Linked DNA regions of Homo sapiens: region 2 is linked to region 1. A link means that fine-mapping ties the variant in region 1 to the plasma level of a protein whose gene starts in the linked region. Region 1 holds a variant in brackets. A gene starts in the other region. All regions are shown on their forward strands.

Region 1 (5,323 bases):
CTGATCGGCGCCACTGCTGTCCTGCTGGCTTCCGCTGCGCAGCCAGGGGTACCAAGTGTTTGCGCAGGGAGGCCCCGCGCTGGGACGCCCCTTTGAGGGACCCAGCCTTGAGACAGCTGCTGTGAGGGACAGTACTGAAGACTCTGCAGCCCTCGGGACCCCACTCGGAGGGTGCCCTCTGCTCAGGCCTCCCTAGCACCTC[C/T]CCCTAACCAAATTCTCCCTGGACCCCATTCTGAGCTCCCCATCACCATGGGAGGTGGGGCCTCAATCTAAGGCCTTCCCTGTCAGAAGGGGGTTGTGGCAAAAGCCACATTACAAGCTGCCATCCCCTCCCCGTTTCAGTGGACCCTGTGGCCAGGTGCTTTTCCCTATCCACAGGGGTGTTTGTGTGTGTGCGCGTGTGCGTTTCAATAAAGTTTGTACACTTTCTTAACAGTGTCTGATTTGCCGCCCTGCCTGCCCTCCCCAGGGCCCCAGAACAGGGGTTCACGTCCACTGCCAACACTCCCCTCCCCTACCCCACAGAAAGACATACACAGCCTTAACCTCACCAGTTTTATATTTGCTGCTGCCCACATCGGCTGTATCACATTACCCCCTAGTCCCCAGAGCTGTCCCAGCCACCAGCCCTGTGACATCGTAGCCCAGAGATGGGCTAGTCAGCAAGCAGCACCCCCTCCCCTCCCAGGGGTCCACAAAGAACGCCCCCTCCCTTCCCAGCCCTCACACTAGCAGCTGAGGCTGGGTCACCCCTCCTGCTTTCCCACAATAGAGCTTTCTATGTACAGCCACGTCTACACAGGCACTGCTTCCCCCCAGCCCTCCTCCCCGGCACCTCCCCGTGGGGGTCTGGACCCCCCCTCCTCCCCGGCTTGGAGGCAGACACAGGGTCCCTTGCAAGACACGACCCAGCACCAACCACGGAACAGCTCCAAGGCCCCTGGGCCCCTCTCCGGCCTGGGGCTGGGAGCTACGCGCGAGGGCCCCCGCGGGCCCCCGGGGCGCGCACCCTGGGTGCGGGCCCGCGCGGGAGGGGCGGTGCCAGGCCCTGCGCGGGCGCTACTTGACGTTGAACACCATCAGCGGCCGCTCCTCCCGCCGCTGCCACGGGCTCTTCTTGTCTCCCGCCTCGTCGCCCACCTCCGCCCCCAGCTCGTCCTCCGGGCTGGTGAGCGAGTCGCGCCGCAGCTCGCTGGCGCTGCTGCGGGAGCTGTCCCCGCGGCTGCGGCCCCGCCCCCGGGGTACCGTGGCCGCCCGGCCCTCGGGCGCCGCCACCTCGTCCAGCAGCGGCGTCAGCGAGTTGTCCTCCGGAGAGCAGAGGCCCGTGCGGCTCTCGCTGCTGCTGGGCTCCGTGTCCTCGCTGAGCGCCAGGCGCGGGGGCGCGGGCGGCGGCGGCGGCGCGGCAGGCGGGGCGCGCTCCCGCTCCTCCCTCGCGGGCCGGCGGCGCGCGGGCCGCGCCTCGTGGACATCTACGCCCGAGTCCAGGCTGGCGTCGGTGCTGCGTGCCCCGCCGCCCGCCTGCAGGTCGATGTAAGAGTGGCGCACTTGCGAGTTGGAGCGCCCGTCGAGGGACACGAACCAGGCGCGCGGGTGCGGCTTCACGCCCAGTTCCAGCAGCTTCTTCTCGGTCAGGGCCTGCAGCTCCCCGTTGAGCTGCGCCATGGTGGACTCGTTGAATAGCACAGGGATGGTGACTGAGCCACTGACGGGCGCCGCGCGCCCGGCCCCCCAGCCCTCGCCGCCGCCCCCGCCGCCCTCGCCCCCCGGGCCCGAGTGGCCCGGCATCTGCGGGCGCTGGGGGTCGGGCTGGGGAAAAGCGCGCGCCGGGCCGGGTGCCGTGCCCTCCGGCGGGGCCGGCTCGTCGCCCACGCCGGCGGCGCCCGCCTCGCCGCCGAGGCGCACGTAGTGCGCGGGGATCACCAGGGTGGGCATGACGTTGCGGTAGACGTTGTCCTTGAGGTGGTCGATGGAGCCGCAGAAGATGAGCTGCCCCGCCTGGCCCAGCGACGGCGGCCGCGCCAGCTGGTCCACCGACTGCGACAGCAGGAAGTCGGGGGTCTTGCCCTCGGCCGCCCCCTTGTGGCCCAGGTAGTGGTCGAAGGGCGGCGGCGGCGAGGGCGGCTCGTGCAGGAAGGCCGCAGCCCCCGAGGGCCCCCGCCGGTGCTCCTCTAGGCCGGGCTCCAGCCCGCCGGGGCCCTCGGCCGAGCGAGCGCCCTTGAGCCCGGCGCTCTCGCCCCCGCGGGCACCCGAAGGCTCGGCGGCCGGGCGGCTGGCAGAGCGCGGCTTGGTGCGGAAGAAGTCATCCCGGGAGGAGGCCAAGTCCCGGGAGCTGGAGAAGGCCGAGTGGAGGGGGCCTGGAGGCGGAGCCTCGGGGTCCCCCGACGGGGCGGGTTCCAGGGGTCCCCCACAGATGAGGTGGAGCTGGGACATCGAGGTGGCCTGGTCTCGTTTGTTACCGTCAGAGGGCCCCGAGAGCTGCAGCTTGCGGTGCTGTTGCCTCGGCTTCAGGCAGCGCCTCCTGGAAGGGAGGGAGCAGAAGGGGCCGCTCAGGAAAGGGTGAGGGCCAAAGTAGGCCCCGAACCCCCTTAGATGCAAGACAAGAGACGAATATAGTGGAAGAGGTGGGGAGAATGCCTGGGGCGCTCAGGAGAGATGGCGGGGAGCCGCCGTGTCCGTTTGGCGATCCCCTCAGGGTCAACTCTGCACTCCTCTGCATGTAGGATGTGCTGCGAGAACCAGGGATGAGCATCTAAGCTGTCTATGGGTGTGTCCGGCCTGGAGTCCTCTGGGAGAGAGAGCTGGGCTGGTAGGGGCAGTGGCAGATCTCTCTGGAGGGGCCGGGCTGCAAGTCCTTAAGCCCTGCCTCCCCTCCCACCTCCCCGCTGTCTTCAACCACCAGCACCAGCCCTTCAGGTCTTAGCATGTTTGCAGGAAGTCTTTTCCTGTCTGCCCCTTGAGGACCAGAAGTGGATTTTATGCATCTTTGGGGCCCCAGGGCCCGGTACAAGTGCAGGGGAGGGTGAGGGAAGCCCCGTGCTCACCGGCAGTAGTAGATGAGCAGACACAGCAGGATAAGCACCAGCAGGGCCAGGGCTGCCAGGATGGTGAGCAAGAAGATGGTGTGGTAGGTGCCGATGTCCTGGATGCCCGACGTGATGGTGACCAGCCCTGTGCCAGGCGAGGGCTTAGCGTTCAGGTGTAGACACCCTTCCTGCCTTTCAGAAGTCTGCTCTCCCAGCTCCCCTCCTCCGCGGCCTCTACGCCCACTGCCCCACTACTCTTACCAGCCGTGGGGGAGGCCATGGCGGCCACCCAGTACCCCAGCTGGGGGGAGACGAAGGTCCAGTAGAGCTGCCGGCCTTCCTTCCGGATTACACCAGTGCCATTGCGCACCCACAGCCCTGGGAGAGGCAGGGGTTTTGTCACACTTGAGTCGCTCCCACTCAAGTCCCACTTTCTTCTCTCAACTCAAGCACCTGCAGCCCCCTGAGGCACTTACCACTCTTGGGGTCAAATCTCCAGGCTGGAATGCTGGTGCCCACGGTGAGGGCACGAGTCTCGGAGGGCACGGGCAGGGACAGGTGAATGGGGCCTGAGAGCGGCACCTCTGTCCCATTACCTGTCAGCAGGTGCACGCTCACAGCAGTCAGGGGCATCAGCTCCAGCCAGGAGCCATTGCCTGAGGGAAGAGGGTACAGGGCTGAGGGCTGATCCTGAGCCTGGGGAGACCCCATCCGTGCTGGGCACCCAGCCTACCTGAGCTGGAGGCCTCAGTGCCCAGGAAGGCAGGGAAAGCCCGCATTTCCTGCTGGGTGCTGGCAGGCGTAAGTGACGCCCAGAGCTGGCTGTAGGTGGAGCTGACAGGCAGGCGGGCAGCCCGGCGCTGGAACTGCACCAAGGGCTGGGAGCGGGCACCTGGAGGGAAAGAGGGGCTGCAGTGGCTTGACCATGGACAGGGATCCCCAGGGACCAGAGCAGAAACCCATTATCTAAGGAAAAGGGGGACATGAGGTCAGGCCACTTTGGAAGGCCAGGGAGGGTGATGCCTTGGGGAGAAAGCTGGGCAGTCATGGAATGTTAACCTGGAAGGGACATGGACCTGAAATCTCTGTGTGACCCTCAGCAATTTACTTGTTTTAGTAGAAAGTTTCCTTATAGAACCTATAAAATGTTGCGATCCAGATCCTCAAACAGTATTGTCTACTATGTGGCAGGCACCAGGTTAGACACTGGGGGCCCAAAGATGAACGTCTGCTGTGATGGGAATGTTTTCTAGGTGTGCTGCCCATTATGGTACCCACTGGACACACGTGGCTGTTAAGCATTTGAAATGTGGCTAGTGTGACTGAGGAACTGGATTTTTAATTTTTAAAAATGTAATGATTTTTTTCTAGGTGGGTGCAGTGGCTCATGCCTATAATCCCAGCACTTTGGGAAGCCAAGGTGGGTGGATCACCTGAGGTCAGGAGTTGGAGACCAGCCTGACCAACATGGAGAAACCCTGACTCTCTTAAAAATACAAAATTAGCTGGGTGTGGTGGTGCATTCCTGTAATCCCAGCTGCTCGTGAGGCTGAGGCAGGAGAATCACTTGAAACTGGGAGGGGGAGGTTGCGGTGAGCTGAGATTGTGCCATTGCACTCCTGTCTGGGCATCAAGAGCGAAACTCCATCTCAAAAGAAAAAAAAAAAAAAGGCCGAGCGCGGTGGCTCACGCCTGTAATCCCAGCACTTTGGGATTCCAAGGCAGGTGGATCACGAGGTCAGGAGTTCAAGACCAGCCTGGCCAAGATGGTGAAACCCCATCTCTACTAAAACTACAAAAATTAGCCAGGTGCGGTGGCAGGCGCCTGTAATCCCAGCTACTCGGGAGGCTGAGGCAGGAGAATCGCTTGAACCCAGGCAGCAGAGGTTGCAGTGAGCCAAGATCATGCCATTGTACTCCAGCCTGGGCAACAGAGTGAGAATCCATCTCAAAAAAAAAAATTAATGAATTTTTAATTTAATTTACTTCAATTTAATATGTAGCTAGTGGCTACTGCATTAGACAGTTTAGGTCGTGTGTGTGTGTGTGTGTGTGTGTGTGTTGGGGTGGAGGGGACAGACATACAAACAATTCCAATACAATATGGTCACAGCTAACATTTATTAATCTTTAAGCTATGCTGGGCACTGTTCTAAGCAGGTTACCTATATTAACCCCTGCAATTAGGAAAATAGCCCCTGAGCTAGGTATCTATTATCAACCTCATTTTAGAGGTGCAGAAATGGAGGCACAGGGGTTCAGTAACTTGCACGAGGTCACAATCCTCGAGCCCGGATAGA
Region 2 (5,352 bases), not on the chromosome of region 1:
GTACTGGGTCAGTGTGTGAGTCACTGCCATGAGCACACTGGTCGAGGCCTCTGGATTGGTCAGGCTGCAAAACACAGAGAACTCCAAGAGGCCTTCTCCCCAGGTGGCTGTGAGCCTGCTGTAGGGGTGCTCGGAGTCCGCCCTGCAAGGGGTCACAGCCAAAGGCCATCATGGGGACAGGGCCAGGGCACAGGCACACTCACTTGAGCAGGCGCATACCCGCTGTGGCTCCCAGGTAGAGGGGTGTGCCCGCGTGTCTCTCTTTGGGCACATCCTGAAGCGCCTGTTCGAGGCATCCAACAAGACTCTGGCTGGCCCCAGAAGGGTTGTCTGCATAGCTGGAGATGCCCCCACCTAGAGGGAGGCAGAGAGATGAGCCTATGCCTCACGGGCAGCCCCTAGGTGGGCCGTAGGCCAGGAGAGTGAGGGTGGGGGTGGGGGCCGTGGGCTCCCAGACCAGGTGGCACACCTTCCCTGCTTAAGCCCCCAGAAACGCCCAGGTTGGAGACAAAGGGGCCCAGGTGCCACCCGGAGACCAAGGCTGCTGCCTGCTGAGAGGGTGTGGGTGCAGGTGCTAGGACAAAGCCCTGGGCATGGTCAACCCAGGTTGGCCTCCTGAGGCCTGCCTGGGTGTGTCCGCCAGGCCCCCAGACCTCCTCCTGCTCCATCTGGGGCACAGAAGCCAATACTGGGCCCGGCGAGGCTCAAACCTCCCCACCTGCTGCCTAGGCTTCCTTTCTAGAATGCAAACGACTCCTGGCCCCACTCAGGCGCAGGGGCACCAGCCTCTCTCTTTCCAGGGCTTCTGCCTGGAGTGAGCCCCACCCAACACTAAGCAGAAGGACCTGCACTGGCTAAGGCTGGAGAGGGTCCCAGAGACCCTGCAGTGAGTGGGCGTCCTGGCTGGGCTGGGCTGGGCCTCACCTGGAACATCACAGGAGCTGTGCTGGCCCACAATGCCTGTGTCGTTCTCCTTGTCTGCCGGCCACTTGTAGATAAACATGGACGTGTGTGAAGAACCAGCGTCCAGGACGATGCCATACTGCGGGGGAGGGGGAGGGAGTCAGCCTGGGGTGTCCGGGGGCCCTGACACCCTGACACCAAACGTGAAGTTGGGTTCCTCCAGTTTGCCACCGCTCCCCCCCCCACCCAGTCATGTGCCAAGCCTCATGCTGAAGCTCAGAGGAGGCCAGGGCCTCCTCTGAGGCCGTGGTTGGAAGGAGAACAGGGAGGTGGTGGGGAGGTGACTCTTCCCTCCTGACTACCTGAAGCCAGCATGCCAGGGTCTGGGCAGCAGCCTTCCTGGCAAGGGCAGACTGAGGGACTGAGTCAGGGACAGAGGGACAGAGGGTCCCCAGGGACTTTTCCCTGGGGCACAAGTTTCCCAGGCTCAGGGAGAGGAAGCTCCTCTGCAAGAGGAGCTCCCTAGAGTCCCTCTTCCTTCCTCCCCTCTTCCTTCCTCCTCTGTCTCCTTCCAGCTCCTCTGACGGCAGCCCAACCTGAGGATGCAGGAGGCAGGGCCCCAGGTGAAGAAGGTCCACCGAGGCTGGCCGTGGGCCTCAGAGCCAGGTCAGCTCTAAAGACACTCTCCCTAGGCCTCCAAGCCAGGGCCAGAGAGAGAGGCTGGCCCTGCCTTGTTGGGGGTGCTGGGTGGGCCTTCCTGCAGACCTGAGTGGCACGAGCTTGTAAATGCCCTTTTCCAGCTCCTGCCCCAGCATCCTGGATCCACCTGGAAAGCTGGGGACCAGCCTCCCAGGCCCGGGCGCCAATTCCAGCCTCCGAGAGGGCCGCACCAGTCCATCCCGACCAAGGCTTCCCCAGAGCCCAGAGCATCAACAGGTCAGCGCGTGCACCGCCACATGGCCGTCCTGCAGGGCCGCAGAGCTCCCTGCTTCTGACTCCCCATCAGGCTGGGGGACTTGGCTCTCCACCCCACCCCCCTACAAGCCCAATAAAGGGTTAAAGGGGCCGACCAGGAGGTCCCTGGGCCTGCTGGAGTGGAGATCCAGGCTAGCCTGCTCCAACCTTTTGAGGACCGGCCAGGGCTGCTCCGGTCAAGCCCTCCTGTCTTTCTGGGCCACTCTCGTGTCCTGGCGGGGGCCCTGGGTCCTGGGGCTTGTGGATCCCCATCTGGGCTGAATACCCAGTCGATGTGGCTCTAACCGCACCCTCCGGGGCGGCGGCACAGGGCAGAAGTGGCCCGGAGTGCCCCTGGGGGCCCGCACAGGCCTGGGGGCGGGCGTCCGGCAGCACCCAGGGGGCATCGCTGGGCTATCCCGGGAGCGGGGACACAGCCCCTGGGCTGCGTTGACGGACTCGGCGGCGGGCGCGGAACTCCCGGGACTTGTTCCTTCAGCACCGCGTCGCCCTGGAAGCGCCACCGCCCCCCGCCCCCTCCGCGTACCCGGTCGGGGAGCGCAGAGCGCGGAACCCGGGACCCCACCCAGCCCGCCAGGAGCAGAGCACGGTGGGGGTCCCGGGCTGATCCTGCTCAGGTTCCCAGCCGCACCCCCTCCCCGGCTCCAAGCCCGGCCCGCTGCTCCCCAGACGTGCGCTGGGTGCCCGGGCGCGCACCTTGAGGGCGGGCGGCTCCCGGACGTCGCGGGTGGGGACGCACAGCAGTAGGAGGCCGGCGAGGCCCGCGGCGGCCAGCAGCAGCGGCGGCAGCAGTGACCGCACCTTCCCGGCCATGGGCGGGCGGGCGCGCGGGAGGACGATGCGTGGACCCGGAGAGTGCGGGGAGCCGGAGGCGGAGGCGGGCGGGGCCGCGGGACCGCGGGGTAGGGGCCCCGGGGCGGGACGAGGGGCGGGAGGCCGGGCGGGCCCGCCCATCACCGGCCACGCCCACGGGCGGACAGGTTTCGCCTCCGCTCCCAAGCTTCCGCCGTCCGGCCCGCGCAGGTGAGAGACGCGGGCGCGGCTGAGTCACCAGCACCGCCCCCCGGCTCCCGGGTCTGAGCCCGGGCGCCCCGCGGCTATGGCCCACCTTCCCCTTCCCGCCCACTCAGCAAGGGGATCCCCCGGCCGTGGAGGCAGGAGACCTGGCGTGGGGGTGGGCGGGCGAGGCTGGCTCGGAGGGTCCTGTGCTGGAGAGCCGCGCTTTTCCCGGGCCCGGGAAAGGAGGCCAGACTCGCTTGCAGGAATGAGGCACTGTCGGCTGCGGAGCCACGCGGGGCCCGGGCTGGGGACTCAGGAGGAAGCCGAGGGTCAGCACCTGTTTGTGGAGCAGGGCCCTGAGCGCCAACTCCCAGGGCTGGTGAGGACCAGGCTGGCCTGCGGGATGCCCTCCCGGCCAGCAAGGATCCGCCAGCCTGCGGCGCTGAGCCAGCGCAGGTCAGCTCCAGAGACACGCAGCTGACCCAGGCCAGAACTACCCTTGAGGCCCAGTCAGATCCACCTCACCTGGGCCCTGTACTGAGGTGAAGGTGAGGACGCAGGAACGGGGAAGGGGAGGGACGGCCCAGGTCACACCGAGCCGAGAAACAGGAGAAGCAGCACAGACCGGGCCAAAGGTCCATACCTCCCAGCCCAGGGCCTCAGCCGCGCCTGCTGCCCCCTCGGCCTGAGGGGAACAGAGGCTTGGGCTGCGGAGGCCAGAGGAGGCTTCCCCAGGACGGAAACAGGTGGGGCCTCTACGTGGCCTGAAAGGCAAGGAAGAGGGTCCCCAGGCCAAGCTTGGGGTGCGGGTCAGCAACAGGCTTCTGGGGACGGCTGGGGCAGGCGAAGCGCAGCTGGCCCCAGACGCAAGCCCTGCTCCTCCGTCCCACGACATGGCTGGCCTTTCGGCTCTGCAGCCTCACAGGCCCCGCATCCCAGCCCGGCCAGGGGCCACCCCCTTTGCGCCTGCTGCAAAGTGGGAATTCTTGTCCCAATAATTCCAGCCACACAGCGTCAGGGAGCCACGAGGCAAGGCCACCAGGGAGTGCAGGCTGCTGGGGCCCAAAGGGCAGCCCCATGGGGCAGGGTCCAGACCATGCCCGGCCTTCTGGAACGGGCAGTGACAATTGTGCTGGGATTGCTGCCTGGGCTGAGGGTCTGGCGCCACAGGCCCAGTAAAGGCATCTTTCTTCCAGCTCAGGACCCCAAAGGGAGGGGTGGGAACCCTGGGAAGCCTCTCTGCTGCCTCAGCCTCACAGCCCAGCCTGGCGGGGCTCCAGCAGGCAATCTCTGGGTGTTGCCGGTGCTAAGCTCCAGGCCCCAGGCCCCAGTTTCCCCCCACACACCCCAGGCCTTTCTTCCACCCCTGACCGCCCAGAGGAGGGAGAGGCACGCACAGTGCACATCATGCCTGAAAAGGAAGGAACAAAGGCCGCCCAGAGGCAGGGTGCTGCGACCCCCACTGGCCTGCGGTACCCCGCTTCCCTCCAGGCCCAGCGGGGCTTCCTGGTGTTCTGGACTCTTTTCATGGACAAAAAGCTCAAGCCAGGGAGTGGGAGGTCTGCCAGGCCTGAGAGGATGGGGAGGGAGAGGGGAGCTGGACTCTGCCCCGGGGAGACAGGCTCATGGCCGAGTGCCCAGCTTCGCCTGCGGAGGGAGAGGCAGGGAGCCCAGAGCGGCCAGGACAAAGGCTGAGGCTGAGCTCTCTTTGAGACGGAGTGAGGGCGGGGGAACGCCCCTTCCTGGCATGGACTCAGGGACCCTGGAAGGCAGACTTGGGAGAGCGTCAGAGGGAAGCTGGCAGGAGCTGAAGGGGTGGAGGGGCCTCTGGGTGGGGCAGCTCTCGGCTTCCAGGACCCTCTCGGGGATGGGGCCTCCAGATGTGCTGCACATGACCCCGGCTGAGCTGGGAACATGCGGATGCAGAGAGGTTAGGGGAGAACCCCTGGGGGAGGGAACTCGGAGCCTCCCGCCCACGCAGGGCTCAGACCTCCCAGGGAGGGGGGCTTTCCTGAGGCCTGCTGACATCTTGGCTGCCCTGCCTCAGTCTCCACATCAGAAGCTTGTGCTGTGTGGCTCACGTCTGTAATTCCAGCACTTTGGGAAGCTGAGGCAGGTGGATCACTTAAGGTCAGGAGTTCAAGACCAGCCTGGCCAACATGGTGAAACGCCGTCTCTAATAGAAATACAAAAATTAGCCGGTTGTGGGCCGGGCGCGGTGGCTCACTCCTGTAATCCCAGCACTTTGGAAGGCTGAGGCGGGCGGATCATCAGGTCAGGAGATCAAGACCATCCTGGCTAACGCAGTGAAATGCCATCTCTACTAAAAATACAAAAAATTAGCCGGGCGTGGTGGCGGGCACCTGTAGTCCCAGCTACTCGGGAAGCTGAAGCAGGAGAATGGTGTGAACCCGGGAGGCGGAGCTTGCAGTGAGCCAAGATCGCGCCACTGCACTCCAGCCTGGGTGACAGAGC

Which allele goes with the higher level. Positions count from the first base shown, and alleles are read on the strand shown. Strength reflects both the effect of a copy and how common the allele is.
In carriers of allele C in region 1, the plasma level of the protein whose gene starts at base 2,755 in region 2 tends to be lower than with T alone (weak association).

Evidence for each region. PIP is the posterior inclusion probability: the model's chance that the variant is causal. Protein levels are from antibody-based Olink assays in UK Biobank. Linkage for the fine-mapping came from a reference panel and not from the study's own genotypes, which makes the PIPs less certain.
Region 2: it holds the start of ENTPD2, and the variant in region 1 is fine-mapped to the plasma level of the ENTPD2 protein (UK Biobank, PIP above 0.99).

The regions. Positions count from the first base shown.
Region 1 is chr17:44,352,674-44,357,996 of GRCh38, forward strand. It overlaps GRN (granulin precursor), which reads left to right. Exons shown (of 13, transcript NM_002087.4): 13 at 1-433. The coding sequence ends at 125. FAM171A2 (family with sequence similarity 171 member A2) reads right to left here. Exons shown (of 8, transcript NM_198475.3): 4 at 3,757-3,915; 5 at 3,500-3,679; 6 at 3,285-3,401; 7 at 3,042-3,168; 8 at 542-2,518. The coding sequence ends at 1,060. Among named protein-coding and RNA genes, the nearest start is that of FAM171A2, 8.5 kb to the right of the region's middle. RefSeq lists silencers at 965-1,034, 2,065-2,114. The variant C/T (reference allele first, on the strand shown) is at 203.
Region 2 is chr9:137,051,307-137,056,658 of GRCh38, forward strand. ENTPD2 (ectonucleoside triphosphate diphosphohydrolase 2) reads right to left here and starts at 2,755. Exons shown (of 9, transcript NM_203468.3): 1 at 2,575-2,755; 2 at 925-1,042; 3 at 204-354; 4 at 1-64. The coding sequence starts at 2,691. It overlaps LOC105376327 (a long non-coding RNA gene), which reads left to right and starts at 1,039. Exons shown (of 2, transcript XR_930455.2): 1 at 1,039-1,569; 2 at 1,704-2,069. RefSeq lists silencers at 2,741-2,810, 2,911-2,990.